Regions from separate parts of the Homo sapiens genome. Here region 1 is linked to region 2. The links come from fine-mapping of genetic effects on gene expression. A gene starts in region 2. The other region holds a variant in brackets. All regions are shown on one strand. Distances are from middle to middle. Region 1 has its middle 11 kb from the start of SYVN1. Region 2 holds the start of CAPN1-AS1 (CAPN1 antisense RNA 1).

Region 1 (16,924 bases), 34 kb after region 2:
GAAAGAAATACTGCAGGCTCATAAACACAGATGGAAAAATCCTAAGCAAATTATTAGCAAAATGAATTTGGTAATATATAGGAAGAGAACGCAGTGTGCCAAAGCTGGATTTATTCTAAAAATGCAAGGTTAGAGATGAGAAAACTGATGAATCTGATTTGCCCCCTTAACAGATTACAGGAGAAAATTGAACAATCTCAAGGATTGCAGAGAGTGCATCTTGCCATGTGCAGTGAACTAGACCCCACAAGTGCATATCACACCATGTAGTAGGGGACTTGAGGCAAGGAGCAGCAGGAGAGGCAGTGGCTGCGCAGAAAGTCCTTTGGGCCAGTTGTTGAGAGAGCATCTCGAGTTTGGGAGCCTTATCTGGAATGTGTCAGCTTTGCCCTAAATAAATAAAAATTACCCCACACTTTGTGGTTTAAATGAAAAAAAAAATGTATTATCTCACAGTTTCTGTAGATCAGGAATGTGGGAGCATTAACTTGGAGGTTCTGCCTCACAGTCTCTCGTGAGGTTTGCAGTCAAGATACTGGCCAGGGCTACCGTCTTCTGAGGGTTTGTGTGGGGCTGGAGGATCGCCTTCCCAGGTGGTTCACTTACACGGCTATTGGCTGGGGGGCCTCAGTTCCTCACCATGTGAACCTGTCCACAGGGCTGCTGAGTGTCTCATGACATGGCAGCTGGCTTCCCCAGAGCAAGAGATCCAAGAGACAGTGCAGACAGGAAGCCAAAGTGTGTTTGTGCCAGCTCTCCTAGGTCTCTCACCATCACTTTCATTGATTCTATTCTTTAGAAGTGAGTCACTAAGTCCAGTTTACATTCGCGGGAGGGGAGCGAGGTTCCATGTCTTGAAAGGAGGAGTATCAGGCCAGGCGCGGTGGCTCACACCTGTAATCCCAACACTTTGGGAGGCCAAGGCGGGCAGATCATGAGGTCAGGAGTTCAAGACCAGCCTGACCAACATGGTGAAACCCCATCTCTACTAAAAATACAAAAATCAGCCAGGCATGGTGGCACGCACCTGTAATCCTAGCTACTCAGGAGGCTGAGGCAGGAGAATCACTTGAATCTGGGAGGCAGAGGTTGCAGTGAGCCGAGATCGTGCCACTGCACTCCAGCCTGGGTGACAGAGCGAGACTCTGTCTAAAAAAGAAAGAAAGAAAGAAAGAAAGAAAGAGAGAGAGAAAGAAAGAGAGAGAGAAAGAAAGGAGGAGCATCTAGAATGCATGGACATTCCTAAAACCACCTCACCTGGGAGACTCAAGCCCTGGTTGAACCATCCTACTTGGTGCCTGTACTGGAATAAGAGGAAATCAGACAGCCAGAGGATTGTTTCACTTTCAACTCAGCTACAAAACTCCTTGGCCATTCATGTTCCCTGGCAATCACACTGCAGATGTCTAGAAACTTCGCATTTCCACTTTTTTTCTTACAAAAATGTCATTCAGAATCACATTTCCACTTTCTGAGGTAACTAATCACACCCTCTCCTCTCTCTGCAAAGCTCCAACATGACTTCTTTCCCTTTTTCTTTTTCTTTCTTTGCTTTGAGACAGGGTTTCACTGTCACCGAGGCTGTTTAGTGCAGTGGCTTGATCTCTGCTCACTGCAACCTCTGCCTCCTGGGCTCAAGCCATCCTCCCACCTCAGCCTCCTGAATAACTTGGACCACAGGTGCGTGCCACCAAGCCCAGCTAATTTTTTGTAGAGACAGGGTTTCGCCATGTTGCCCAGGCTGGTCTTGAACTCCTGGGCTCAAGCAATCTACCCCCCTTGGCCTCCCAAAATGCTGGGATTACAGGTGTGAGCCACTGCGCCCAGCCTCTTTCCCTTTTTCTTCTCCTCTATTTTACCTGAATCTGCACCTGTACACACTTTCTCTGCCTCCTCTCCTACTAGAATGGAACAGCCATCTTTCTCCTCCTTTCTTTTTTATTTTTATTTTTTTATACAGATAGGGTCTCACTATGTTGCCCAGGCTGGTCTCAAACTCCTGGGATCAGGTGATCCTCCCACCTCAGCCTCCCAAAGTGCTAGAATCATAGGCATGAGCCACCATGCCCAACCTCTCTCTTCCTTTCAAAGCTTCTGGGTCCTCCTCTTCTGCTCGACTCCTCTTCCTTCTTGATTTCTCAAAGTCATCACTTCTCTACACTTCTCTACGTGCTTCCTGGTTTATTTTTTGTCTTTAGTATTCTGTAAGCTTCATAAGGGAAGGGACTTTTTTCTATTTCATTTGCTAATACATTCATGACACTTAGAACAAGACCTGGTTCAAGGTGGGCACTGGATAAATACTTGGGTGAATAATAGAGTGAATGAATGGGAAGAGGGAAACTCCACCCATTCTAGCTGGAAGGAAAAATGAGGAGGCAGGAGGAGCAGGTGTGAGCGGTAGGAGAAAAGGTATGTGCCCTGAATTTCCTGCACTGGGCAGGAGTCTCATGAGGGTAGGTGTCTTTTTGCTCACCCTGGAATCCCAGCACCCAGCCCTGCACCTGGCACATACTGTGTGCTGATTGCCCAATCTGTACCTTAGTGCCCCAGCCCCTTTCTTTGTACTAGTCTTGGGTGATCCATGTTGCCCATGGATCTGTCCCCAGCCTGCCCCTCTATCCTACTTCCCTTTCTCAGATGCTCAGGCCAGCCTGAATTGAGTCCTAATGTGGCCTCACTGCCTGGCTGCCCGTGCCCTGGCAGAGGGAGGGGACATCAGCCTCCTGTCCCTGCTCTGCCCTCCGAGGACACCCAGACTCGAGACAACTGCCTAGGGTGGCAGCCTGCCAAGGGGCCTGAGGTGGCTGTTCCCTGGCTTTGCACAGAAACTGTTGGGAATGACTCAGCCCCGAGACACTGCTTCAATAGGAGGAAGAAGTCACCACAGGCCCTCACTGGAGGTGCAGCGCAGTGTCAGAGAAGTAGATAGAGTGCCTCCCGGCCACACGCCAGCAGGGTGACTCTGGCTGACTTTCTTAGCCTCTTCGAACATCTGTTTTCTTTTCTTATTTTTCTTCCTTTCTGTAACCTCAAGAATATCTGTTTTCTCAGTAATAAAATGACTAGTTGCCATGGGGATGAGAAAATGGACCTGTTACAAAGCGCGGGGGTTGAGAGAAGGGCCATGGGGCCACCCTGTCTGGGCTTAAGTCTTTTTTTTTTTTTTTTTTGAGAAGGAATCTCGCTCCGTCACCCAGGCTGGAGTGCAGTAGCGCAGTCTTGGCTCACTGCAACCTCCGTCTCCTGGATTCAAGCAATTCTCATGCCTCAGCCTTCCGAGTAGCTGGGACTACAGGCACCCACCCCCAATGCCTGGCTAATTTTTGTATTTTTAGTAGAGATGGGATTTCACCATGTTGCCCAGGCTGGTCTCGAACTCCCGACCTCAGGTGATCCCCCCACCCTTGCCCTCTCAAAGTGCCGGGATTACAGGCGTGAGGCACCGCACCCGACCTGGGCTTAAATCTTGACTTTGTCTTTCCCTATTAGTTGGGCAAACCTCAGGCAAGTTACTTAATCTCTCTGAGCCTCAGTTTCTTCATCTATGAAACCGATATGATAATAGTACCTGACTCAGGATTGACATAAAGGTTAAAACTGTAACTGCCCAACATTTATTATTCTCAGCCCTGCCCTGAAGGATGTCACAGACACAGAAGTGATTACAATGCAGGGTCATAGGGGCTGTGTTCACACAGGGACAAATGCTGTAGGCACCATGTGGTGGGGAGAGACTCACTCAGGTTCATGGCTGATGCTGGAAATGTGTAAGGGTGTGCACTAAGAATTTTCCAGACAAAGAAGAAAGGGAAAAGCATGCTACTTTATATAGGTTTGAGCAAAAGTGAAGATAGCTAGGCTGAAGAGGCAAGCAGAGTTTGGGGAATGAGACAAGTTAAGTTTGACCACAATACAAAGTGCATGATGAGGGCCGGGTAAGGTGGCTCATGCCTGTAGTCCCAGACTTTGGGAGGCTGAGGTGGGTGGATCACCTGAGGTCAGGAGTTCGAGACCAGCCTGGCCAACATATGAAATCCCATCTCTACTAAAAATACAAAAATTAACTGGGCATGGTGGCAGGTGCCTGTAATCCCAGCTACTCAGGAGGCTGAGGCAGGAGAATTGCTTAAACCCAGGAGGCGGAAGTTGTTGTAAGTCGAGATCACACCACTGCACTCTAGCGTGGTCGACAAGAGTGAGACTCCGTCTCAAAAATAAATAAATAACAAAGTGCATGATGAGGATTTGGTGGGGTTAGGAGGCAGGCTGGAAGCATATCATGCAGAAATCCAAATGCCCCCTTAGAAAGGCCTTTGTCAGATTAGCAAGCTCACACTTGTCACTGAGCATCTGTCTCAGCCTTCTCCCAGCTGGCTGCCTGGACCACAGAGGCTGGAACGGTAAAAAAAAAAAAAAAAAAAAAAAAAAAAAAAAAAAAAAAACCACACAAAACTTGAGTTACATATATTCCTTCTGGTTTTTTTTTTTTTTTTAAAAGACTGAGTTTCACTCTTGCTCCCCAGGCTGGGGTGCAGTGGTGTGATCTCGGCTCACTGCAATCTCTGTCTCCTGGGTTCAAGTGATTCTCCTGCCTCAGCCCCCCAAGTAGCTGGGATTACAGGCATGTGCCACCATGCCTGGCTAGTTTTTTATTTTTAGTAAAGATGGGGTTTCTTCATGTTGGTCAGGCTGGTCTTGAACTCCCGACTTCAGGTGATCCGCCCCCTTGGCCTCCCAAAGTGCAGGGATTATAGGTGAGAGCAACCGCACCCAGCCTCCTTCCACAGTTTCAATCATGTGAGACTTACATTTGGAACTAAGTGGAGTCGAGGGAGACAGGTAGCAGCCCTCGGGCACTCCTTCTGCTGGTGTGGTTCCAGCAGGGATAGTAAGGCTGGGCCCACTGCACTGTGGAGCTTTCCAGATTCTGGGCTTGCAGTTAGTGTCTCACCTGAGCAGCTGAGTATGCACTGCCTGTGACAATGCCACTCCAAGTAGATCTGCCAGGGACCCTTCCCAGGAAATTATTTATAACAATTCCAGCAGAGATGGCTTCTCATCCTCCTTGAAGCTACTGGACTCTGAGCCCCTGATTCTGCCACAGCTCATCACTCTAGACCTGTCAGGCTTAACACAATTCACTTATCCAACCATTCAATCATCCATCATCCACTTAGCCAATCCAGTCTTTTTTTTTTTTTTTTTTTTTTTTTTTTTTTTTTTTTTTTTTTTTTTTTGAGACAGAGTCTAACTCTGTCAGCCAGGCTGGAGTGCAGTGGCGCTATCTTGGCTCACTGCAACCTCGACTTCCTGGGTTCAAGTGATTCTTCTGCCTCAGCCTCCTGAGTAGCTGGGATTACAGGCACGCATCACCATACCTGGCTAATTTTTATATTTCTAGTAGATATGGGGTTTCATCCTGTTGGCCAGGCTGGTCTTGAACTCCTGACCTCACTCAGATGATCCACCTGCCTCGGCCTCCCAAAGTGCTGGGATTACAGGCGTGAGCCACCACGCTCAGCCCAATCATTTGTTGACTCACTTCTTCAACACTCCCTGAGTTCTTATTCTGTGGCAGGCCCTGGGTCTGGGGCCAAGAACAGGGAGTCAAATTAGATTAGGGCTGTGAAACAAGCCACTCTCAAACCTAGAGGCTTATGACAATACCAATCATTTATTTTCTTACCATTATGCAATTTGGGCAAGGCCTGGTTGAGACAGCTCTTCTTGTGCCTCCAGCTCCATCCTTGGAGCTGGAGGACCCTTCAAAGATGGTGCACTCCAATGGCTGGCAAGTTGATGCTGGCTAGAGCTATTTATTTATTTATTTATTTATTTATTTATTTATTTATTTAAATTCCCCCAGCCAATTGGATGGTAGGGCTAGAGCTTTTTATTCCCTATTTTTTTCATTTTTAAACTTTATCTCCCTTTAGGGGTACACTGTTCCTGGAGGTACTGCAATGCTAGGTAAATGTGTGGAGTGGGTGGGGCAAGCTCCTATTCCATCTCTTAGTTCCAAAAATCTATTTAATATAGATTGTGTCCTCGAATAGAGGACATATCAGATATTAAACTGATAAGAACAGATACTACACTTGATCTTACCCAAAAGGCTGAGAATGGAGCTTTGATTCTCCTCTACATGGGCCTCCCCACAGGACTGCTTGGGCTTCCTCACAGCATGGTGGCTGAATTCCAAGAGAAGAAAACAGAAGCTGCCAGTTCTGTTTTAAAGGGTAAGCCCAGAATTGGGCACAGCTTCATTTCCACCATATTCTACTGGTTCAAAGCAAGTCATAGGCCAAGTCCAGAATTAAGGGGGTGGAGAAGTAAACCCCACCTTTCCATGAGGGACGGGATAAGGAATTTATGAGCATTTATAATCCACAAACCTAACTAGGAGTGCAGTTTCATGCTGCTTGGATTGAGGAATTGACTGGTTGGATAACTGACTGGGTTTGATTAACACAAACTAAGGATTATTTCTCATTATATCTGTTTCCACATGGTGGACCTTTTCTGGAGTAACTAACACTGCAGAAAAGTGGCCTTGTCCCACTTTCTCTCACTCACCCCTCCCAAGAAGTAGAAAAGAGAGTTTTCTTGGTGAAGTTGTTAGAAGCAACTATGTATGGGACCCAAAGTGAGGTAGGAGGCAGGTCTCAATTCTGGAGGTGGGGCTGGGACACCAGACCAAATTGAGGACTTGCTAAAACAGGGATGGGGTGGAGGCAGCTTTCCATAAGACACACCCACCAGTGTGCCATGTCAGTTTACCATTGCCATGGTAACACCTGGAAGTTACTGCCTCTTTCTGTGTTAATGACCAAACGACTCAGAAGTTACCACCTTATTTTTAGAAATTTCTGCATAATCTTCTCCTTAATTTGCATATAATTAAAAGTGGGTATAAATATGACTGCAGAACTACCTCTGAGCTGCTACTCGGGGTAGCCCTGGTGTGCAAGGAACAGTACATCTGCTGCTGCTGTGCACTGCCACTTCACTAAAAGTGTCTGTCTAACAGCACTGGCTCACCCTGGAATTATTTCCTGGACAAAGCCAAGAACCCTCCCGGGCTAAGCCCCAATTTGGGGGCTTGCCTACCCTACATCAAAAGAAGGAGAAACCTTTGGGAGCAGAGTGGGTAAGTCTGTGCAGCTCTGGGACGGGTACAGGGACTTCAAATGCATTTTCTCAACAACTCTATTGGTTACAGAAGTAACATTTTTATCTCTATCCTATGTGTCTGTTTTTCAGATGGTACTAAACTTGGTCAGGGAAAGACAGGGTGTTACATTGTATGCCCTGTAAAAACCCTTGCTCTAAATCTGTCACATACTTGGCACTCAAGAAAAACATGTTAAATGTTAACTAAAAGAATGTTGACATCAGGTGTGAGAGGTTTTCTTCTTCTTCCTTTTTTTTTTTTTGAGATGGAGTCTCGCTCTGTCGCCCAGGCTGGAGTGCAATGGTGCAATCTCGGCTCACTGCAACCTCCACATCCTGGGTTCAAGCTATTCTCCTGCTTCAGCCTGCCAAGTAGCTGGGACTACAGGCCGGCACCACCATGCCCAGCTAATTTTTGTATTTTTAGTGGAGACGGGGTTTCACCATGTTGGCCAGGGTGGTCTCGATCTCCTGACCTCGTGATCCGCCCGCTTCAGCCTCCCAAAGTGCTGGGATTACAGGAATGAGCCACCGCGCCCAGCCGGGAGATTCTTCAAGCAGTCATTATATCAACAGACACAGATGTTTCCCTTTCTTCATATGACGAAGCTCAGGGATCCAAACTTATTCGTAAAGCTAAAGAGACACCATTGGTACCCGTTGGAATAGCAGGTTTTGCAGCACTTGTTACATATGGATTATACAAATTGAAGAGCAGGGGAAATACGCAAATGTCCCTTCATCTGATCCACATGCGTGTGGCAGCCCAAGGCTTTGTTGTAGGAGCAATGACTATTGGTATGGGCTATTCCATGTATCGAGAATTCTGGGCAAAACCTAAGCCCTAGAAGAAGAGATGCTGTCTTGGTCTTGTTGGAGGAGCTTGCTTTAGTTAGACATCTCATTATTGAAGTTATGTGTTATTGTGGAAAATAAACTATTTGAGTGGGTTTAGATGGTAACACAGCATTTTGAATATTGGCTTCCTTTCTTGCAGGCTTGATTTGCCTGGTGACTTAATTACTAGTGACTAGTTTACTAACTAGGTCATTCAAGGAAATCAAGTTAGCATAAAAGAAACATGTCACCTAAATGCACTAGATGGTGTTGAAATGTCCACCTTCTTCAATTGTGAAGATGAACTTAAGTTCTAAAGGATATAACAAGCCAACCCTGAAGTACTCCCAGTTTGCTGCAGGATCTCACATGTTTCGGATGTTATATAAGAGTCCTATTTGCCCTAGTTAATTTAACTTTTTTTCTGCCTGTCTTGTGGACTGGCTGGCTCTTTCAGAACTCTGTCTAAAAAGTGCATGGAATAAAACTTGTAAAGCTTCCCACAACTGACAGTATCTATGTGTGTGTGTTTAAACCAAATCTAGAAAGCTTACATTATAGCTGCATAGTAGTGGTATTTATTAAAGAATCACAGTTGTGAACATGAGAATAACTTATGGATTCTAGTTTAGTTATTTTGTAATTGCAGAATTATATTTTTGCTGCTGTTATATCTGAATAATTTTTAAATGTCATCTTGAGATAGAAATATGTATTTAAGCACTCATGCAAAGGTAAATGAGCACCTTTTATTTTATTTTTTTTGAGACGGAGTCACGCTCTGTCACCAGGCTGGAGTGCAGTGGTGTGATCTCAGCTCACTGCAACCTCCATCTCCCGGGTTCAAGCACTTCTCCTGTCTCAGCCTCCTGAGTAGCTGGGACTACAGGTGCACACCACCATCCTTGGCTAATTTTTATATTTTTAATAAAGACAGGGTTTCGCCATGTTGTCCAGGATGGTCTCGATCTTGACCTCGTGATCCGCTGGGCCTCAGCCACTCAAAGTGCTGGGATTACGGGCATGAGCTACCGTGCCCAGCCCAATGAGCACTTTTTAAATGTGTGCATTGCTTATTTTTTCCATAAGAATTACAAACATTAAACTAATCAAATTACCTATAATGGAATTGATTAATGACTTATGAGCAAGCTGGTTTGGCCAGACAGTATACCCAAACTTTTATAAACTATAGAATGTTATTACATTTGTGAAATTTTCTTGTCTAACCTGAATTTACATTTCATGGTGATAACATGGTATATGTACTGTTGTTAAAGTAAGTGACCATCTCAAAAAAAAAAAAAAAAAAGAACGTCAACATCAATTCTGACAGGACAGGAATTTGGACAATGTAGCTTTTACTCATTCATTCTTCCACTAATGCATTCATTCAGCAGACAGTCAAATAACCTGCAATTAGCTTGTGGATCTCTCTACCATGAGACTGAAAGCTCCATGAGGTCAGGGAATGTATTTTGTTCTCCACAATGTCCTCAGAACCTGGCCTGGGGCCTGAACACAGTAGGCCCTCAGTAAATGTTTGTTAATTAAAGGAATGAGATCAGAGGCAAGGGAAGTCCAAAGGCAGTCTAGATAGACCAACAAACTGACCTCATGTGTGGTCAGTCCCACATTCAATGCACACTTCTTGGTGAGGGGGTCATTCAGGGAAAGTTGGAGGGTCTGGCCTTCCAGGCTGGGAGTACCTGGAGTGTTCCACCATGGAAGAGAGAGAATAGTTCCTCATTTTCTCTTTCATGGAGGGAGAATGTGAGAATCCAGATGTTGTTGTCAAAAATGTTGAAAAACTTTTAAGCCGAACGCAGCAGCTCATGACTGTAATCTCAACACTTTGCAAGGCCAAGGCAGGTGGATCGCGTGAGCCAAGGAGTTTGAGACCAGCCAGGGTAACATGGCAAAACCCCATATCTACAAAAAATACAAAAATTAGCCAGGCACAGTGGCGCATGCCTGTAGTCCCAGCTACTCTGCAGGGCTGAGGTGGGAAGATCACTTGAACCCAGGAGTTTGAGGCTGCAGCGAGCCCTGATCATGCCACTGCATTCCAGCAGCTTGGGTGATAGAGCAAGACACTGTCTCAAAAAAAAAAAAAAAAAAAA[G/AAG]CCTGGGCATGGTGGCTCACACCTGTAATCCCAGCACTTTGGGAGGCCGAGGCGGGTGGATCACGAGGTCAAGAGATGGAGACCATCCTGGCCAACATGGTGACCATCCTGGCCAACATGGTGAAACCCTGTCTCTACTAAAAATACAAAAAATTAGCTGTGTGTGGTGGCAGGCGCCTGTAGTCCCAGCTACTTGGGAGGCTGAGGCAGGAGAATCGCTTGAACCCAGGAGGTGGAGGTTACAGTGAGCCGAGGTCACGCCACTGTACTCCAGCCTGGGCGGCAGAGCAAGACTCCATCTCAAAAATAAAATAAAATTTTAAAATACTTATCAATTCATGTTTTCTGTTGTGTCTTAGGTCAGTTTTAGTGCATCTTTTATTTTCTAGGAAATTGTCTATTTCTCCTAAATTTTCAAATTTATTGCCATAAAATTGCACCTACTGCATGCTCATTATTTTTAAATTTCTGCTGTGTCTGTTTATTGCTGTTTTCATTCATTATATTGTCTGCTTGTGCAAACCTTATTTTCTTGACCAGTCTCTCTGGAGATTTGTCATTCTTATTAGTTTATTCAAAGAGCCAGCTTTCAACTTTGTGTATTCTATTTTAGCTTTATCTATTTTCTTTTTTCTTTTCTTTTTTTTTTTTTTAGACAGAGTCTCGCATTGTTGCCCAGGCTGGAGTACAATGGCGCGATCTCAGGTCACTGCAACCTCTGCCTCCCAGATTCAAGTGATTCTCCTGCCTCAGCCTTCCAAGTAGATGGGATTACAGGTGCCCCCCCACCACGCCCAGCTAATTTTTTGTATTTTTAGTAGAGACAGGGTTTCACCATGTTGGCCAGGCTCTTCTCAAACTCCTGATCTCATGATTCGCCTGCCTCAGGCTCCTAAAGTGCTGGGATTACAGGCGTGAGCCATTGCGCCTGTCCTCTATTTTCTTAATTTCTATTTTGTCTTTGTTACTTCCTTACCTATTTTATTGATGTAATTAACATACCACAATTCATTATTTTAAAGTGTACAATTCAGCCAGGTGTGGTGGCTCACATTTGAATCCCAGCATTTTGGGAGGTTGAGGCGGAAGGATCACTTGAGGTCAGGAGTTCAAAACCAGCCTGGGCAACAGAGTGAGACTCTGTCTCTACTAAAAATAAAAAAGTTAGCCAGGCATGATGGCATTTGCCTGTAATGTCAGCCACTTGGGAGGCTGAGGTGGCAGGATCACTTGACCCCAGGAGTTCCAGGCTGCAGTGAGCCATGATCGCGCCACTGCACTACAGCTTTCGCAACAGAGCGAGACTGTGTCTCAAAATAAATAAAGTGTACAATTCGGTCATTTTTAGTATACTCACAAAATTGTGCAAGCATAGCCACTATCTCCTCAGGAACATTTTTATCACTCCTCAAATAATAAACCCCATACCAATTAGCAGTCAGGCCCCATTCCTCACGCCACCAGCCCTTGGCAACCACTAACTACTTCTGTCTGTATGGACTTGTCTATTCTGGACATGTAACGTAAGTGCAGTGATATGAATGCTTTTTTCACTGAGCACAGGGTTTTCAAGGTTCATCAATGTTGTAGCATGAAGCAGTACTTCCTTCCTGTTTATGGCTAAATAATACTCCATTGTGTGGGTACATTACATTTTGTTTAGCCATTCATGGACATTTGGGTTGTTTGTACTTTTTGGCTATTATGAATAATGCTGCTACGAATGTTCTTGTACAAGTGTTTGTATGACCAGATGCTTTCAGTTCTCTTGAACATATACCTAGAAGTAGAATTTCTGGGTCATATGGTAATTTTATGTTTAATTTACTGAAGAACTGCCAAACTGTTTTCCAAAGCATTTACACTATTTTACATTCCCACCAGAAACACATAAGGGTGCCAATTTCTCCACATCTTGCCAACACTTGTTATTGTTGGTCTTTTTTTTATCACAATGATTTTAGTGGGTATGAAATCATCTCTCTATGGTTTTGATTTACATCTCCATAATGACCAGTGATGTTTAACATATTTTTTTGTGCTTATTAACCATTTTCTTTTCTTTTTCTTTCTTTTAGAGATAGGGTCTCTCTCTGTCACTCTGGCTGGAGTGCAGTGGCATGATCTTAGGATCATAGCTCACTGCAGCCTTGAACTCCTGGGCTTGAGCAATCCTCCCACCACAGCCTCTTGAGTAGCTGAGACTACAGCCACCACACCTGGATAATTTATTTTTTGTAGGAGGGGGGTCTCACTATGTTGCCAAGGCTGAGAGGATTGCTTGAGCTCAGGAGTTGGAGACCAGCCTGCGCAACATGGCAAGACTCTGACTCTACAAAAAATACAGTAAACAAACGAACAAATAAAAATTTAAAAGACAGACCTAACCATTCTCTCCCTAATGGATATGTGGTTCTATTGTCTTGTTTCACTATTTCAAACAATGCTGTGGCAATCATCCTTGGACTTAAAATCTTTGGGGTCATGTACAAGCTCTTCAACAAGATAGATTCCTGAAAGGGGAAAATCCAGGTCAAAATGTAAGTTTGCTTTCAACAACTTTTATGTCAACTTAACTGAGATATAATTGTATGTTAATACAATAAGATTTGCCAGTTTTAACATACAATAAGATTAGTCACTTACACAATTTGGTGTGCTTTAACAAACATGTATAAGTCAGGTAATTACCACCACTACCATGATATAGAGAATGTTTCCACTATCCAAAAAGTTTGCTTGTGCCATAGAGCAATCTGTCCTCTCCCCTAGCCTCTGTCCCTGGCAACTACTTGAGATGCTCTCTGTCACTAGTTCTATGAACATATATTTGCATTTATCTTGGGTAACTTAAGAACGGAATTGCTGGGTCATATGGTAAATGTATACTTAACTTTATAAGAAATTACCGAACCTTTTTTCAATATGGCTATACCGTTTTGTATTCCCACCTGCAATCTAAGATAATTCTAGGTGTTCCACATCATTACCACCACTTTGTATGACATCTTTTTAATTTAACTATTCTAGTACTAATAGTATGGCATTGCTTTCAATGAATTTATCTAATAATGATGGTGTTGAGCACATTTTATGGGATTATTCTCATCTGAATACCTTTGATTAAATGTCTGCTCAAAATGTTGGCCCATTTTGTATTAGCTTTTCATTTTTTTATTAGTAAGTTATAATATGTATTCTCAATATGAGTCCTTTGTCAGATATACGCTTGGCAAATATTTTCTCCCAATTTTTCTCCCTTTAACTGTCATTTGAACAGATAAAGTGTTTAGTTAGGATTAAATCCAATTTATCAATTTGTTTCTTTGATAGTTTATGCTATTTGTATCCTATTTAAGACATTTTTGCCTAACCCAACATTACTAAGATTTTTTTGTTTTCTTCTAGAGATATTACAGTTTTATGTTTTACATTTAGACCTACGGTTCATTTCAAGTTAAGTGTTGTATACGATGCAAGGTAGGGAATGAGGTTTTTTGTTTTCATATGGATATCCAATTATTTCAGCACTTTTGTTGAAAAATCATCTTTCGGCCGGGCATGGTGGCTCATGCCTGTAATCCCAGCAATTTGGGAGACTGAGGCAGGCGAATCACCTGAGGTCAGGAGTTCGAGATCAGCCTGACAAACATGGTGAAACCCCGTTTCTACTAAAAATACAAAAATTAGCCGGGTGTGGTGACACGCGCCTGTAATCCCAGCTACTTGGGAGGCTGAGGCAGGAGAAATGCTTGAACCCCAGGAGGTGGAGGTTTCAGTGAGCCAAAATCACACCACTGCACTCCAGCCTGGGTGACAGAGCAAGACTCTGTCTCAAAAAAAAAAAAAAAAAGAAAGAAAAATCATCTTTCACCATTGAATTGCCTTGTTACCTATATTGAAAATCAATATATTGCGGGGCGCGGTAGCTCACGCCTGTAATTCCAGCACTTTGGGAGGCCGAGGCAGGCAGATCATGAGGTCAGGAGATTGAGACCATCCTGGCTAATACGGTGAAACCCCGTCTCTACTAAAAATACAAAAAATTTGCCAGGCGTGGTGGTGGGCGCCTGTAGTCCCAGCTACTCGGGAGGCTGAGGCAGGAGAATGGCGAGAACTCGGGAGGCGGAGCTTGCAGTGAGCGGAGATGGTTCCACTGCACTCCAGCCTAGGCGACAGAGCGAGATTCCGTCTCAAAAAAAAAAAAGAAAATGAATATAAATGTTATTCTATTTCCGGACTGCATTCTGTTTCACTAACCTACATGTGTATCTTTACACCAAAAACCACACTGTCTTAATCACTGTAGCTTTATAGTAGTCTTTTTTATTTTTTTTTTTTGAGACAGAGTCTCATTTTATCACCCAGGCTAGAGTGCAATGGTGGGATCTTGGCTCACTGCAACCTCTGCCCCCAGGGTTCAAGTGATTCTTCTGCCTCACCCTCCCGCGTAGCTAGGATTAGAGGTGCGTAGCTGGCATTACAGGCGCGCACCAACACGCCCAGCGAATTTTTGTATTTTTAGTAGAGACAGGGTTTTACCATGTTGGCCAGGCTGGTCTCAAACTCTTGACCTCAGGTGATCCGCCCACATCAGCCTCCCAAAATGCTGGGATTATAGGCATGAGCCACTACGCCCAGCCTATAATAAGTCTTAAAATCAGGTAGTATAAGTTCTCCAACTTTGTTTATACTTTGCAAGGTTGTCTTGGATATTATAGGTCTTTTGAATTTTCACATATTTTAGAATCAGCATCAATTTTTTAAAAATGCCTACTGAGATTTTGATTGGAATGGCATTAACCCTATAAATCAATTTGGGGGAAATTGACATCATAGGAGTATGGAGTGCTCTGATCCATGGATATAGTATATCTCTCCATTTATTGGATCTTTACTTTCAGCAATGTTTTATACTTTTCAGTGTACAGGTCTTGCACATCTTTGATTATATTTTATTATTAAACATTTGCTTTTTTTTTTGAGATGGAGTTTCATTCTTTCACCCAGGCTGGAGTGCAGTGGCGCAATCTCAGCTCGCTGCAACCTCTGTCTTCTGGTTTCAAGTGATTCTCCTGCCTCAGCCTCCTGAGTAGCTGGGATTACAGGCGCATGCCACCACGCCCGGCTAGTTTTGTGTTTTGTTTTGTTTTGTTTTGTTTTGTTTTGTTTTTTGAGATGGAGTCTTGCTCTGTCACTGAGGCTGGAGTATAGTGGTGCGGTCTCGGCTCACTGCCAGCTCTGCCTCCTGGATTCACGCCATTCTCCTGCCTCAGCCTCCCAAGTAGCTGGGACTACAGGCGCCTGCCACCATGCCCGGCTAATTTTTTTGGTATTTTTAGTAGAGACGGGGTTTCACCGTGTTAGCAAGGATGGTCTCGATCTCTTGACCTCATGATCCGCCCGCCTCAGCCTCCCAAAGTGCTGGGATTATAGGCATGAGCCACCACGCCCGGCCACGCCTGGCTAGTTTTGTATTTTTAGTAGAGAAGGGGTTTCACCGTGTTGGCCAGGCTGGTCTCAAACTCCTGACCTCAAGTGATCTGCCCGCCTCAGCCTCCCAAAGTGCTGGGATTACAGGCGTGAGCCACCGTGACTGGCCAAACATTTGATTTTTTGAAGCTATGTAAATAGTATTTTGAAATTTTCAATTTCTGATTGCTTATTGTTAGTACTTAGAAGTACAACTGCTTTTTGTCGAGGCATGGTGGCTCATGCCTGTAATCCCAATACTTTGGGAGGCCAAGTCAGGAGGATCGCTTGAGCCCAGGAGTTCAAAAGCAGCCTGGGCCTGATAGCAAGACCTTGTAGCTACAAAAAAAATTCTTTTTAATTAGCCTGCCATGATGGCATGCACTCCACCCCAGCCTGAGGAAGTAGGCAATGCTTTTTGTGATATTTGAGGAGAAAGACGTTCCTGGGAGAAGGAAAGACATATGCAAAAGGTGATGGGCCTGCCTGGGGCATGGTAGGGATGGTACACCTGAGACCCCACAACTGGGCATTATGCCTGAAGGGCAGAGTGTGGGAGGGAAGGCAAGACGTGAGCTCAGGTGTCAGGAGATCTCTCTGGCCGTTCTATGGAAAACGGATGAGGAGGAAAGCACAGGAAAGGGGACTGTTGCATTTTCCCAGGCATGAGATGATGATGGTCTGGACTAGGACACTGGCAGTGAAAATGGCAAGGAAAGAATGAATTCTAGAGACACTCAGGAGGTAGAACCCACAGGATGTCCTCTCTTGCCTATTGCACCGCAAGAGCCTCCTAACTGGTTTCCCTGCTCCCACACTTGCCTTCCTCCCCACTACAGATTATTCCAACACAGGAGCTGGAGTGACTTTTTTTTTTTTTTTTTTAGTTTTTTTTGAGACTGAGTCTCGCTCTGTTGCCCAGGCTGGAGTGCAGTGGCACGATCTCAGCTCACTGCAAGCTCCGCCTCCCAGGTTCACGCCATTCTCCTGCATCAGCCTCCGGAGTAGCTGGGACTACAGACGCCCGCCACCAAGCTCGGCCAATTTTTGTGTTTTTTTATCAGAGACGGGGTTTCACCGTGTTAGCCACGATGGTCTCGATCTCCTCACCTCGTGATCCAACCGCCTTGGCATCCCAAAGTGCTGGGATTACAGGGTCAGCCACCACACCCAGCCTGGAGTGACTTTATTACACCTAAGTCAGAGCATGTCACACCTCTGCTCAGCACCCTCCAATGACTTCTCACGTCACTCAGAGGAAAAGCCAAGGTCCCTGTGATGGCCAATGCGATCTTGCCCTGGCCTCTTTCCTACGC
Region 2 (13,816 bases):
CCCCGGACCTGAGCTCCATCCTTACCCCTACCTTCCTAGATGCAGGATTCTACATCCCAGATACATACTAGATACACATAGACTAAATCATGTAAATTAGATACATACTAGATGTATACTAGGTCAGGTATACCAGATACATAGTAGATGCATGTATACTAAATCACATATACTAGATACATACTAGATGCATGTGTACCTCTAGATACATGTATGCTACAGATATACTAGATACATGTATCTAGGTATTGAAGGAAATCAAAGTATTTCACCCTGAAATATACTTCTTCAACATATTTTGAGATAGCTGTTCAGAGGGTCTGCAAACAGAAGTAGCCCTGTAATACTGTCTTTTGTGGGGGAGATTTGCATCTGTAGAGAAAATCTGCATTGATGTAGCCAGGCTTTCTCTAAGGCCTTCCCTTGTCAGACTGAGAGCCTGACACCCTTTAAAGGTCTGAACGAAACAATTACCATCTATTCCCTCTGAGGGCTGCTACCTGTGAGGTTTCATCTACATAACAAGACTGCCTTTGCTACCCAGGCCCCCTTTTCTCCCCCTTCCATAGTCTGTCTTGCCACTATAACCTGATTTACCACCAGAAACTGGTTTTGGCCATGTTCGAGCCCCCATTCTTCCTGTAACCTCAGGATGGTATATAGGCTTCTGTACCCATTGTGGGGCTGGGGTGAACACTCTGTGGTTCCCGACCCCACGCTGCAGGCTAATCAATTTGTATGCCATTTCTCCTACTAACCTCCTTTTGTGAGTTGATTTTTCAGTGAACCTTCAGAGGGCTAAGGGGATGCTTTCCTTTGCCTGTACAATGTATACTAGATACCTGCATATTTGCTGTATACTAATACATGCATACCACATATAGACATGTGTATACTTGATATGTACATGTATGCTCGAGACATACTAGCTACATGATCCTGGAAAAGTTATCGCCTCTGAGCCTCAGTTTCCCTATCCATAAAAAGGAGCAGCGGTGCCTTCTTCACGGAAGACTTAAACAAGAGCACAGGCAAAGCCTTTAGGGAGTCACTGAACAAACAGGGTTCCTCCTCAGGCACGGAGAGGTGGAAAAGCTCTGGGGCCTGGGCTTTCCGGAACTAGCCCCCTTTTAGGCCATGGCCCCCTGGCTCTTCCCTCCCTATTCAAGGGGGTTAGGGGCACCTGTGTCATTGGATGAGCAGTGAAAATGTGGCATCCAGATCCTACAACCACAAGATGGGCAGGACTGGTTCTCACAATCACGGGCTTTGTTTCTGAGATGCCACAAAGGCCACGTTTCCCAGGGCAGGGTCGGGGCCGAAGGCGTCTGGGGTCAGAAGCGACCAAGGACTCGAGGTACCATCTGAGGGGTCGGGGCCAGGACAACGGGGGGCGGGGCGGGGTGGAGGCGGCCCTAGGAGCCCAGGTTGCGGAGAGTGTGGGTGGCGGGTACTGAACTGGCCAATCGGAGGCCAGGGAGGAGCGGATTGGAGGAGCGAGGGAAGGGGGCGAGACTGCGCCCCTGCAGACTGGAGCAGGTGGGTGTGGCGCTGGGCCAAAGTGGATCCGCACTGTGGGTTCCGCACCCTGGGTTCCGAGGGCCACCTCCACCCGCGCAAGGCGGGCAAGGACAGAGTAGGGTAAGGGGCTCTCTAACCAGGCAGAAGGAGGGAACACCCAAGAGTCCTTCGGGCAGGGCTGGGGCCTCCAAGGCTGGAGAGTCTCATCCAGGGTTGCTGGGCATGTCCCTCCCAAAGGCAGCTCATTGAGAATTGATTGGTGTGACTTGAAAAATGGGCCCTGGGCACACCGTCAGGAAAAGCTGGTTTACGTAGACTTAATCCCGAGTCTTTCTTTTCTGCTGGGCTCAGTCAGACCTTGCCAAAGCGCAGGAGGAGTTGGGGGATAGGAGGCTTGACACGTGGAGAAGGCCACACGTGCTGATCTGTTTTCCCCAGCGAACACTCCTTTCTCAGATGGGGCAACTGAGACCGACCTCCGGGAGGAGTGGAATTTGTCCCACAGGATATAACACAAAAGTCTTTCTGTTCTTTCAAGCACTTTCCACCTGATACATACAACCACCTAGGAAAACTGCCAGCCGAAATACCTGCCCAGCCCAGTCACTTCACACATGACAGACCCGAGATGGCACTGAGAGGTCAAATACCTGCTAGAGGGAGGGCTGGCCCCACAGGGTGTGGCCCTAACTGCAGGTATTGTGGGTCATCCTTCCGCATCTCCCCCAGTGCCTGCTGCCCCTCCTCCCCAGGGGAGCCCTCACCTGGAAATGGAAGATGCCGGCATAGCCATTCTGGAAGCTCTGGCCGTGCGGAACCACTCGGTGCAGGAGGGTGTCGTTGAGAGTGAGGGAGGCGATGGCCGCCAAGAGCCAGCAGTCCCCTGGGGCAGGAGGGATGCACATTAGCCTGCTCTACCAACCTGCCCCGGGGGGGGAAGCGGGTGCTAGGGAGAATCTGGGGTTCCTTGGCCAGGGTGCCACTTAACTCCCCTCAGCTTGCAGAAAAGACCCAGGAATCTGGGCAAACCAGCCCCAGCGCTGATAGCCAGATCCTGCCTGGGCTTGCAAGAGGGAGGGGTTGGGGCAGAGCCTGAAGGAGCGGGAATGGGGAACTACTGTGGAAAAAATACCCGGGACCCGACGCCCTGGGGGCCTACCCAGTGCTCCCTGGCAGATGTCTGTGCGGGTAGCTCCATCCACAATGAACTGGGGGTTTGACAGCAGTTCCTACGAGAGACCCAGAGTCCTGTTCCTCGGCCAGCCCCTCCCAGAAATTGGCACCAGGCCACCCCAGACCCCATTCCCCACCAGGGACATGGAGTCCCATCCCTACTCCTCATCCAGGATCTGGCTTAGCCGAGTCCCACCCAGGATGGCCCCTCTCACCGTGGGACGCTTCCACTTGATGCCATAGGTCTTGGAGGAATTGGGACCCAGGTCCTTGTAACCCAGGCTCTGGGGTACCGGGGGGAAGGCCTCATCACGGAAGAGGGTCCCACTCTGCAGGCATCGCACCCGCAGCTGCTCATAATCCTGGCCCAGGTACTTGATGGCATTCTCATGGCGGCCCAGGCCCAGCTCCCTGGCCCGCTGCTTCTGCACTTGGGCTGACACCCCAGTGCAGTACACCGGCGTGATGATCTCCTCCGACATCCTGCCGGACAGATGGGCCTGCTCAGAACCCAGGCCTTCCCAAGACTAGAACCTGGGCTCCTGCCTGCAAGCTCTGCTCTCCTGCCCCTGCTTATCCATCCCCAAACCTAGGGTTTCCCTGCCTCACTGCTCCCCTCACAGAAGTAGGGTTCTCAGCCACCTCCCGGTGCTCCCAGTGAATCCAGGAAAGGGATTTCCCAGTTCCCAGGCGTGCCGGCCACCTCTCCTTTCCCGGATCCCATTGTCAGGGGCTTGCAGCTCTGTAGTGAGCCAGCAGGTCAGGTGGGGCAGGGCGGAGCCTCCAGACAGCACAAGGAACTGGGCAGGTGGGACACAGCAGGGAAGGCCTCTTTGATCCTGTTCACAGGCCTGCAACCCCCTCCCCAAACTAACCAAGCTCCTGGTGCACCGGCCCCTTGCCGTGGGCTGAAAACCCCAGACGGTCGGGGTCCCCCTCCTCAGGCCCCCGCAGCAGGCTCGATATCAGAGCTGGTGGGCCCTAGCCCAGCCCCTGGGGACAGCGGTGAGCCAGGCTGGGACAGGCGCCTGGGCTGTGCCGCTCCGCCAGCCCCCACCCCTGCTCCAGGAACGCAGAGGCCCCCGAGAAGGGACCGTGCTGGGGCAGCCCCTCAGCCCAGGAGCAGTGGCCAGGGTCAAGGAATCCCGGCTCGGCTACCCAGCTTCTTACCTGGGGGAGGGGTGTTTGGGGGTCGCTGCAGTCCCTGAGGCTGGCTTCCCGGTGGCAGCTCAGGGCAGGGCCCAACCAGGAAGAGCGCTCCTCCCCGCCCTCCTCCCGCCGCCCCTCCGCCCTCCGCCCTCCCTCTCTCCTTCTCCTCCTCCTCCTCCTGGGGCTCCTACCCCGCTTCCTCTCGGCTCTCCCTTATCTCTCCGGCACGGTCTCTGACTATCTCTTACTCACGGTGTCTCCCCGCCCCTCCCTCCGCAGGCCGGGGGCCAATTCCGCGAGAGGACAAATTAGTAAAAGGCAGAGCAGTCCCCGGGGAGGGGCCAGCGCGGGGGGGGATGGGGGGGCTGGGGCGCGGCGGAAGGGCACCGCGGGGAACGGAGGGGGAGGGCCGGGCAGGGGGTATTTTTAACCAGGGGCAGCAGCTCGAGTTGCAGGGCCGGACGGCCGCACCCCACGCGCGCCCTGGCGGGCATTCCGGGGCGATTGTGCGGCGGCGCCGCCTCCCGCAGCCCCGGGCCCGCCCGGTCCCCAGCTCCCCTCGCTCCGCGCGACCGCAGCTGCTCCCGCCGTTCCCAGCCAGCCCCGGCGCGGGGCCGAGATTACCTCGGGCTGCGGCAGCTGCTCTGAGGAGGGGCCGGGCTGGCAGCGAGCAGACCCCTGCCGGACACTCAGCAAACGGCAGCCTCACCCCGCAGGGCCGCGCCACTCCCCTTCCCCACCCCACCGCCGCGTCCCGGCTCAGCGCTCCCCGGGGAACGCAGGGGGACCGGGCTCGCTGCGTGACCTTGGGTAAGTCCCTGCCCCGTTCGGCCCGACTTTCCGCATGCGTGCATCCTATGGGATGGGGTTGGGCAATTGTGGGAGCCCATCTTTCTCTAACGTTCTGGGGTTTCTTGAACCTGGAAACTTAGAGAGGTGGACATCCCTGTTCTCTCCCCCAGGCTCTCAGCCCACCCACCTGGAAGCGCCCATGTGTCACCTTACCCAGGAGAGGGCGGCAGAGGCTGCGAGCAGGACGGCAGCCCCCTCTCCCCACCCCCAGGACCCTGAGATCCTGCTTCACGGGCTGCAAGAAGTTGGGGGGCCAGGATTCGGCGCGGAGGCCGGGGGTGTGGGTGGGGAGACTGCAGAGACTCCCGAGACCCCCCCAAGTCAGGGCTTTTCGCTGGTCTCGCAGCCCCAGCCCAGCAGCTGCTGCAGTCTTGCATGTTGTGGATGCAAGCATTTTGCTGAGGAAACTGCATAGCGTTCCCAGGACTCTAGGGCCCACGACCCCTCAAAAGTTAAGAGCCGCTGATCTAATCTAACCCCACTTTCACCCTCAGTTAACAAAAGAGGAAAACTGAGGCCTGAGAGGGTGTGACTTGCCTGAAATACCTAACCTGGTGAGTGATGGGTGGAACCAGCTCCTAGGCTTTCTGCGCAGGTGTCCAGGGACAGAGAAGGGTGGTTTAAACTAGAGAGGTGGCAGGCAGAAGTAGATGGATTTGATAACTATTTAGGATACACCATCAAAATTTAACTCAAACTGGATTACACACCTAAATATAAATGGCCAAACCATAAAACTTTTTTTTTTAAAAATGGAGACAATCTTAACAATATTGGGTTTGAAAAGATTTCTTTTTTCTTTTCTAAAGGCAGGGTCTTGCTTTCATTGACCAGGCAGGAGTGCAGTGCCCTGATCACAGCTCACTGTAACTTTAAACTCCTGGGCTCAAGAGATCCTCTCACCTCAGCCTCCTGAGTAGCTGAGACTACAGGCACGTGCCACGACACACAGCTAATTTTTAAATTTTTTGTAGAAATGGGGTCCTGCTGTGTTACTCAGGCTGGTCATGAACTCCTGGGCTCAAGCAGTCCTCCTGCCTGAGCCTCCCAAAGTGCTGGGATTACAGGTGTGAGCTTTGGCACCTGGCCAGATTTCTTAAATATGACACAAAAAGTGTAAATGATAGAAGAAATCAATAAATTGAACTTCATCAAAATAAAACGCTTTTGTTTCTCAAAATGCACGAAACTATTAAAAATGAAAAGATAAGCCATAGACTAGGACGAATATTTGTAAAAATTCTATCTGATGTAGGACTTGTATAAAGAACTTTTACAATTGAATAAAAATCCAATAAAAATGGACAAAACATTTGTTTGTTTTCTGGTGTTTGTTTTTGTTTTTGAGATGGAGTCCCGCTCCATCACCCAGGTTGGAATGCAGTGGCGCGATCCTGGCTCACTGCAACCTCCACCTCCTGGGTTCAAGCAATTCTCCTGCCTCAGCCTCCCCAGTAGCTGGGATTACAGGCGCCCGCCACCACACCAGGCTAATTTTTGTATTTTTAGTAGAGACAGGGTTTCACCATGTTAGCCAAGCTGGTCTCAAACTCCTGACCTCAAGTGATCTGCACGCCTCTGCCTCCCAAGGTGCTGGGATTACAGGGTGAGCCACCGCGCCTGTCAAAAAATGGACAAAACATTTGAACAGACACTTCATCCAAAAAGATCTCTGGATGGCAAATAGGCACATTAAAAAACACTGAGTGCATTACTCTTAGGGAAATGCAAATTAAAGCCACTAGAAGGACTGCTTCTAAAAGAACACCTACTAGAATGGCTAAAAGTTAAGATCAACCATACCAAGTGTTGTTATGTTGTCAAGGATATAGAAGAACTGGAGCTGTCATACACCAAGAGAGGGTAAAATGATCACCACCACTTTGGAAGACAGTTTGGCAATTTCTTTAAAATTTAGCGATACAAAGAAATCAGCCATCAAGCTACAAAAAGACATAGCATAACCTTAAACGCATATTGCTAAGTAAAAGAGGCTGGTATTAAAAAGCTGCATACTGTATGATTCCAATAACTCTATATGACGTTCTAGAAAAGGCAAAACTAGCAATGGTAAAAAGATCAGCAGTTGCCAGGGATTCAGAGGGGTAGGAGAGGGATGGAGCACAGGGCATTTTTAGCACAGCGAAACTATTCTGTATGATACTGTAATGACGGATGCATGACATGCATTTATCCAAACCTGCAGAATGTACAACACTAAGAGTGAACCTTAATGTAAACTATGGACTTGAATTAATAATATTGTGTCAATATTGGTTCATCAGTGATTACAAATATACCACAGGCTGAGCGCAGTGGCTCACCCCTGTAATCCCAGCACTTTAGGAGGCTGAGGTGGGCGGATCACATAAGGTCAGGAGTTCGAGAGACGAGCCTGGCCAATATGGCGAAACCCTGTCTCTACTAAAAAATACAAAAATTAGCTGGACGTGGTGGTGGGCTCCTGTAGTCCCCACTACTAGGGAGGCTGAGGTAGGAGAATCACTTGAACCCAGGAGATGGAGGTTGCAGTGAGCCAAGATCACACCATTGCACTCCAGCCTGGGCGACAAGAGCAAAACTCCGTCTCAAAAAAAAAAAAAAAATAGAACTTAGTCACTGGTTAGATATGGCTCTTGGACACCAGGAGAGACCAAAGACAACTTCAGACCCTGGATCTGGCTTGAGCACCTGAGTAGATTAAAGAGAAGGGGGAATGCACTAAGCTGGAGGGACAGTATGGGATCAGGGTATGGGGTATCTTTGGGATCCCCCTATCCAAGAGGAGATTCCTAGGGGTGAGGAACAGACCTTGTGCTCAAAATAGAGGTACAAATTTGGGAGTCACTAGCCACCAAAAAGCAGAGGCAAGGGGGCTGACACCTTGGTCTTCATATGAAGATGCTTCATATAGATGTCAATTCTCCTTAAATTAATCTCTAAGTGTATCACAATGAAAAATTTTAAGAGTCTTCTGGTGGGAGATAAGGAGGGACTAGAAAAGCTGATTTAAAGGTCATATGGCAAATTAAACAAGTAGGAAACTTCTGAAAATAAAAGACATAATGAGTATAGACTAATCCTACCAGATATTAAAACACAACAAATCTATCATTAAAAGGTAATAATTAAAGAGGGTTACTGACACATAGAGATCAATAGAAGACAGAGAAATTTAGAAACAGATTCAAATACAGGCAGGAATGTAGTAGATGATAAAAGTACCATTTCTAATCTGTTGAGAAAAGATGAGTTAATAAAAGACATTAGGAAGAAAAGGGAGCAATCTGGAAAAAAAGTAAGTTGGATTCATAATTTGTATCTTAGAAAAAATTACAGATGAACTCAATTTATAGGTTTGGAATATGTTGTTCCTAATGAAAAAAACATTTAAAAAGGCTGGGTGTGGTGGCTAACACCTGTAATCCTAGCACTTTGGGAGGCCAAGGTAGATGGATCACCTGAGGTCAGGAGTTCACGACCAGCCCGGCCAATATGGTGAAACCTCGTCTCTACTAAAAATACAAAAAAAAAAAAAAAAAAAGCTGGGCATGGTGGGTGGCAGGCGTTTGTAATCCCAGCTACTCGGGAGGCTGAGGCAGGAGAATTGTTTGAACCCAGGGGGCGGAGGTTGCAGTGAGCCGAGATTGCACCACTTCACTCCAGCCTGAGCAAAAGAGTGAGACTCCGTCTCAAAAAAATAAATAAAAATTTTTTTAAAAATTAAAAAATAAAAACTCTAGGTCTGGTGTGGTATCTCACACCACCTGTAATCCCAGCATTTTCGGAGCCTGAGGTGGGAGGCTCTCTTGAGCCTAGGGGTTCAAGGCCTCAGTGAGCACCGCTGCACTCTAGCCTGGGCAACAAAGCAAGACTCCATCTCTAAAAAATCAATAAAAAATAGGCCAGGCGCGGTGGTTCATGCCTGTAATCCCAGCACTTTGGGAGGCTGAGGCAGGTGGATCACGAGGTCAGGAGATCAAGACCATCCTGGCTAACACGGTGAAACCCCATCTCTACTAAAAATACAAAACGAATTAGCCGGGCGTGGTGGCGGGCGCCTGTAGTCCCAGCCACTTGGGAGGCTGAGGCAGGAGAATGGCGTGAACCCAGGAGGCAGAGCTTGCAGTGAGCCAAGATTGCGCCACTGCACTCCAGCCTCGGCGACAGAGTGAGACAACGTCTCAAAAAAAATAAATAAATAAAAATAAAAATTAAATGTTAACCTTCAATATTTAAACGTACAAAAATGAAAACGAAAATACAGCCAGAAGCTGGCTGGGCACGGTGGCTCATGCCTGTAATCCTAGCACTTTGGGAGGCTGAGGTGGGTGGATCACTTGAGGTCAGGTGTTCAAGACCAGCCTGGCCAACATCGTGAAACCCTATCTCTACTAAATATACAAAAATCAGCTGGGCATGGTGGCACACACCAGCAATCCCAGCTACTTGGGAGACTGAGGCACAAGAATTGCTTGAACCCGGGAGATGGAGGCGGAGGTTGCGGTGAGTGGAGATCGCACCATTGCACTCCAGCCTGGGCAACAAGAGCAAAACTCCATCTCAAAAAAAAAAAAAAAAAAATACAGCCAGGAGCTAAAGGAGAAACTTTTTGTATCATCTCAGTGTGGAAACAGTCTTTTTAACTATGACACAAAACCCAAAAGTCATAAAATTGCATTTTTTACTACATTAAAAATCCATACAGTTATGTCAAAATGATGGACTGAAGAAAACATTTACAATTAACATCTTAAAGGAGTATTTTTCTCCATATACATATATAAAAAATCATGTTCTGGGTGTGGTCGCTCATTCCTATAATCCTAACACTTTGGGAGGCCTAGACAGGAGGATTGATTGAGGCTAGGAGTTTGAGACTAGCCTGGGCAACATAATGAGACCCCATCTATAAAAAAATTAGAAAATTAGCCAGGTGTGGTGGTGCATGCCTGTCATCCCAGCTACTCCAGAGGCTGAGATGGGAGGGTGGCTTGAGCCCAGCAGTTGGAGGCTGCAGTGAGCTATGATTGTGCCACTTCCCTCCAGCCTGGGCAATAGAGCAAGATGCTGTCTCTAAGAATAAAATAAAAGTAAATCCCAGCACTTTGGGAGGCCAAAGTGGGTGGATCGCTTAAGCCCAGGAGTTCGAGATCAGCCTGGACAATACGGTGAGACCCTGTCTGTACCAAAAATACAAAAAGTTAGCTGGGCATGGTGGCCTGTAGTCCCAGCTATCCCAGAGGTCGAGGCTGCAGTGAGCTGTGATCGCACCACTGTATTCCAGCCTGGATGACAAAGCAAGACCCTGTCTCAAAAAAAAAAAGTTCACAAATAAAAGAAGACAAATAGGTCTTAAACATATGACAAGATGTTGAGCTCACTGAAAAGCAAATGTGAATTAAAATTTCACCAAGAGACTGTTTCCCACTTAGCAGTTTGGCAAAGATAAAAATCTGGCACCTCACGGCTGGGTGCGGTGGCTCACGCCTGTAATCCCAGCACTTTGGGAGGCCGAGGCAGGCAGATCACGAGGTCAGGAGGTCAAGATCAGCCTGACCAACATGATGAAACCCCGTTGCTACTAAAAATACAAAAAAAAAATTAGCCGGGCGTGGTGACGCACATCTGTAATCCCAGCTACTCAGGAGGCTGAGGCAGGAGAATCGCTTGAACCAGGGAGGCGGAGGTTGCTGCAAAGCATGGTGAGGCCCAGGTGAAGATCTGGAGGCACTCCTATGATGTCCCACCACCTCCAATGGAGCCCAACCATCCTTTCTATAGCAACATCAGTAAGGATCGCAGGTATGCAGACCTCACAGAAGATCTGCTACCCTCCTGTGAGAGTCTGAAGGACACTATTGCCAGAGCTCTGACCTTCTGGAATGAAGAAATAGTTCCCCAGATCAAGGAGGGGAAACGTGTACTGATTGCAGCCCATGGCAACAGCCTCCGGGGCATTGCCAAGCATCTGGAGGGTCTCTCTGAAGAGGCTATCATGGAGCTGAACCTGCCGACTGGTATTCCCATTGTCTATGAATGGGACAAGAACTTGAAGCCTATCAAGCCCATGCAGTTTCTGGGGGATGAAGAGATGGTACGCAAAGCCATGGAAGCTGTGGCTGCCCAGGGCAAGGCCAAGAAGTGAAGGCCAGCAGGGAGGATACTGTTCCCAGGAGCACCCTCCCTGCCTGTCTTGTCCCTCTGCCCCTCCCACCTGCACATGTCACACTGACCCCATCTGTAGACATCTTGAGTTGTAGCTGCAGATGGGGACCAGTGACTCCCATTTTCATTTTAGCCATTTTGTCTCCTGCACCCACTCCCTTCATACAATCTAGTCAGAATAGCACTTCTAGAGCACAGGTTCTCAGTCCAAGCTGTGGAAAAGCTCCCCTTATCCAACAGAGTTTAAAAGTAGTGACTTGGGTTTTTGCGAGTTGCTTTGTTTACTAAGGACTTGTGGGGAGGAACCATGCTAAGCCATGACCAATGAGGAGAAGCAACAGAGCCTGTCTGTCCCCAGGAGCCAGTCCTCTGCTCGTCTGCAGTCAGGCCACTGCCTGAGGGCTCTAGTCATTCCAGTGGAAGATGAATGTAACCTGCATGGTGATGTGACAACTGTTTCCTCCCTGACGCCAGAGGAGCTGGCTCTAGAAGGTTGGGATCAATCCTGAATTTAGTTATGTGTTACATTTAATTTAAGAAGTATAGTATATATAAATAATACAAAACAATAACCCTTCTGGGGTTTCTCGTGGCGGTTGAAATAGTCCCACATGTAGTCATCAGAAAATAAGCCATTCCTCATACCAATATAGGATCAGCTCCTTGACCTCTGAGGGGCAGGAGTGCTTCCTGGTGTGGGTATTACAATCCCTTCCTGCCTTGTTTCGTGACAGTGAAATGCCTCTTGGTCCTGTCCAAGTATGTCTTTCACTGATTTCTGAATCATGTTCTACTTGCTTGGCCCTGCCACATGGGTCCAGTGTTCATCTGAGCATAACTGTACTAAATCTTTTTCCAGATCAGTATAATAAAGGAGTGATGTGAAAAAAAAAAAAAAGAAAGAAAAAAAGAAATTAACCCTTTTGAGTCCTCATGTCTCTTGGGGGAGGGGGGTTGTTTATTATAATTACAATATTATATTTGACTGTAGCTCAAGGAAGGGATCAAGTCTTATTCCTAAGTAAACCTGGCCCTGAAGGCATTTCTAGACTAAATAAAGAGCTGTCTTCCATTCAAGTTTTGTTTCCCAATATGTTCCTGGCCTTTTTTTTTTTTTTTTTTGAGACAGAGTCTCACTCTGTCGTCCAGGCTGGAGTGCAGTGGCATGATCTCAACTCGCTGTAACCTCCGCCTCCACAGTTCAAGCAATTCTCCCACCTTGGCGTCCCGAGTAGCTGGGATTATAGGCACCTGCCACCATGCCTGGCTAGTTTCTGTATTTTTAGTAGCAAAGGGGTTTCACCATGTTGGCCAGGCTGTTTTTGAACTCCTGACCTCAAGTGATCCACCCGGCTCAGCCTCCCAAAGTGCTGGGATTACAGGTGTGAGCCACCACGTTCGGCTCCCTGGCCCTCTTCTAAGGGCTGCAGATACCTCATCTCATTTAATCCCATCTAGACTGTGTAGATCTCATCATCCATAGGCATGGATAGCACAGAGATGAAACTGAGGCTCAGAATAACTGGCCACCAATGGGAAGGGGCCAAGCTGTTACAGAGCCTGTGCTCACATGTTGTAACCCTGGTAGATACCCCCTCCCCACCCCAACCTTGGGTCAAGGAACCAGGCCAGGACCTAAGCACAGTTGGTGTCCTGTGGACATGAATTTATTAGAGGGGACTGGCACCAGAGTGGGCACAAGCTGCAGGCTGGGAGGAAGGGGCAGGGGTGGGAGCACAGCCAATGGTGTGTCAGTCAGTGGGCCAGCAGGCGTGCTGTTCTTCACCCTGCAGAGCTTCAGTGCCCAGGGCGTGCCGGAGGCTTTGGGAAGACTGGGGAGAGGAAAGAGTGAGGCTCAGAGAAGAAACCTGCCAAGCTCACACGGGAGGGGCAGCACGTCGACCCCAGGCCCATGGCCCTCTCTCTCATATTGTTGGTCCTCACTCCTGCCTCCCAAGCTCCCACACCAGCCCCCAGCTCCTGTCCCATCCTGCACTCACTGCGGAGGGAGTAGGTGCCTGGTTCCAGTTGCATCTGGGGAGGCAAGACGATGAGAAAGTCCCCACCCCAGGCGTTTTTGACCCTTGAGAGATAATTTTGGGAGGGAGGGCGATGACATTCAGAGGTCAGAGAAGGGCACTTGGATGACACAGGCTTAAGCAAGTGGCTGCTGCAGTGCTGGGGCAAACCACAGGGGGAACAGTGGGGCGGCGAGAGGCCAGGGCCCCGGGGAAGGCGAACAGGGACCTGTGGACAGACCCTCTGAACCCCACCATGGTGGGGGCGCCGGTCCCGAGTCCAAGCCCAGTGGAATGGCTCCTTTGCCATGACCTGGGAGGAGCAGAGTGGACAGTAAATGGGGTGGGAACCCCAGCCTTCCCCACACCCCAGGTTGCCTCCCAGCCTCACCTCCTCACAGCACTGGCGGCTCACAACAGCCCGGAAACCCATCCGTGCCCAAAGCTTATCCCTCTGGTGCAGGAATTTCCCCACTCGTAAACACCAATCTTTTCCCAGGGCCCATGGAAAAATCTCACATTTGGGGCCCTCCAGGTCCTCCTCCATGTCGTTTGCAAGGTACCTAGCCACAGAGGCACAAGGTCAGGGAGCAGAGGCCACACATCTGCCCTGTCCCATCTGACACCTCCAGCAAATGCCTCCACTGCCTGCCCCCACCACTCACAGGGCCAAGAACAGGCTGCTGTGGGTATACTCGCTGAGCTTCAGGTGGGCGCGCTGGAAGTAGACCAGCACCATGGCCAGGAGATACTGCAGAGACAGATCGGGGTGGGGGGTTAGTTATTCTCTGAGGAGGAGGGGCTTGCACCCAGGTTCATTTGCACCCAGGGAGGTTTTGCTGCAGGGAAAGAAAGTCAGTAAAATGGTGGGAAGTGGTGTGCAAAGATGAGGGGGTAAGGATGGAAGGTGAGTGGCTCTCCCTACCAGACCAGGG

What was found.
Region 1: its variant is fine-mapped to the expression of CAPN1-AS1 in whole blood (INTERVAL, PIP above 0.99).

Annotation. Positions count from the first base shown.
Region 1 is chr11:65,136,791-65,153,714 of GRCh38, reverse strand. It overlaps the pseudogene HIGD1AP10 and the pseudogene RNU2-23P. Among named protein-coding and RNA genes, the nearest start is that of SYVN1, 11 kb to the right of the region's middle. RefSeq lists a silencer at 822-1,001 and an enhancer at 2,910-2,959. The variant G/AAG (reference allele first, on the strand shown) is at 10,137.
Region 2 is chr11:65,172,062-65,185,877 of GRCh38, reverse strand. CAPN1-AS1 (CAPN1 antisense RNA 1) reads left to right here and starts at 4,044. Exons shown (of 2, transcript NR_145677.1): 1 at 4,044-4,653; 2 at 4,806-6,007. It overlaps CAPN1 (calpain 1), which reads right to left and starts at 3,950. Exons shown (of 22, transcript NM_005186.4): 1 at 3,865-3,950; 2 at 2,910-3,177; 3 at 2,681-2,750; 4 at 2,286-2,404. The coding sequence starts at 3,176. SPDYC (speedy/RINGO cell cycle regulator family member C) reads right to left here. Exons shown (of 7, transcript NM_001008778.3): 4 at 13,547-13,632; 5 at 13,273-13,444; 6 at 12,864-13,194; 7 at 12,504-12,695. The coding sequence ends at 12,661. It also overlaps the pseudogene PGAM1P8. RefSeq lists enhancers at 145-711, 1,895-2,684, 2,685-3,473, 3,474-4,263 and silencers at 3,286-3,580, 4,182-4,631.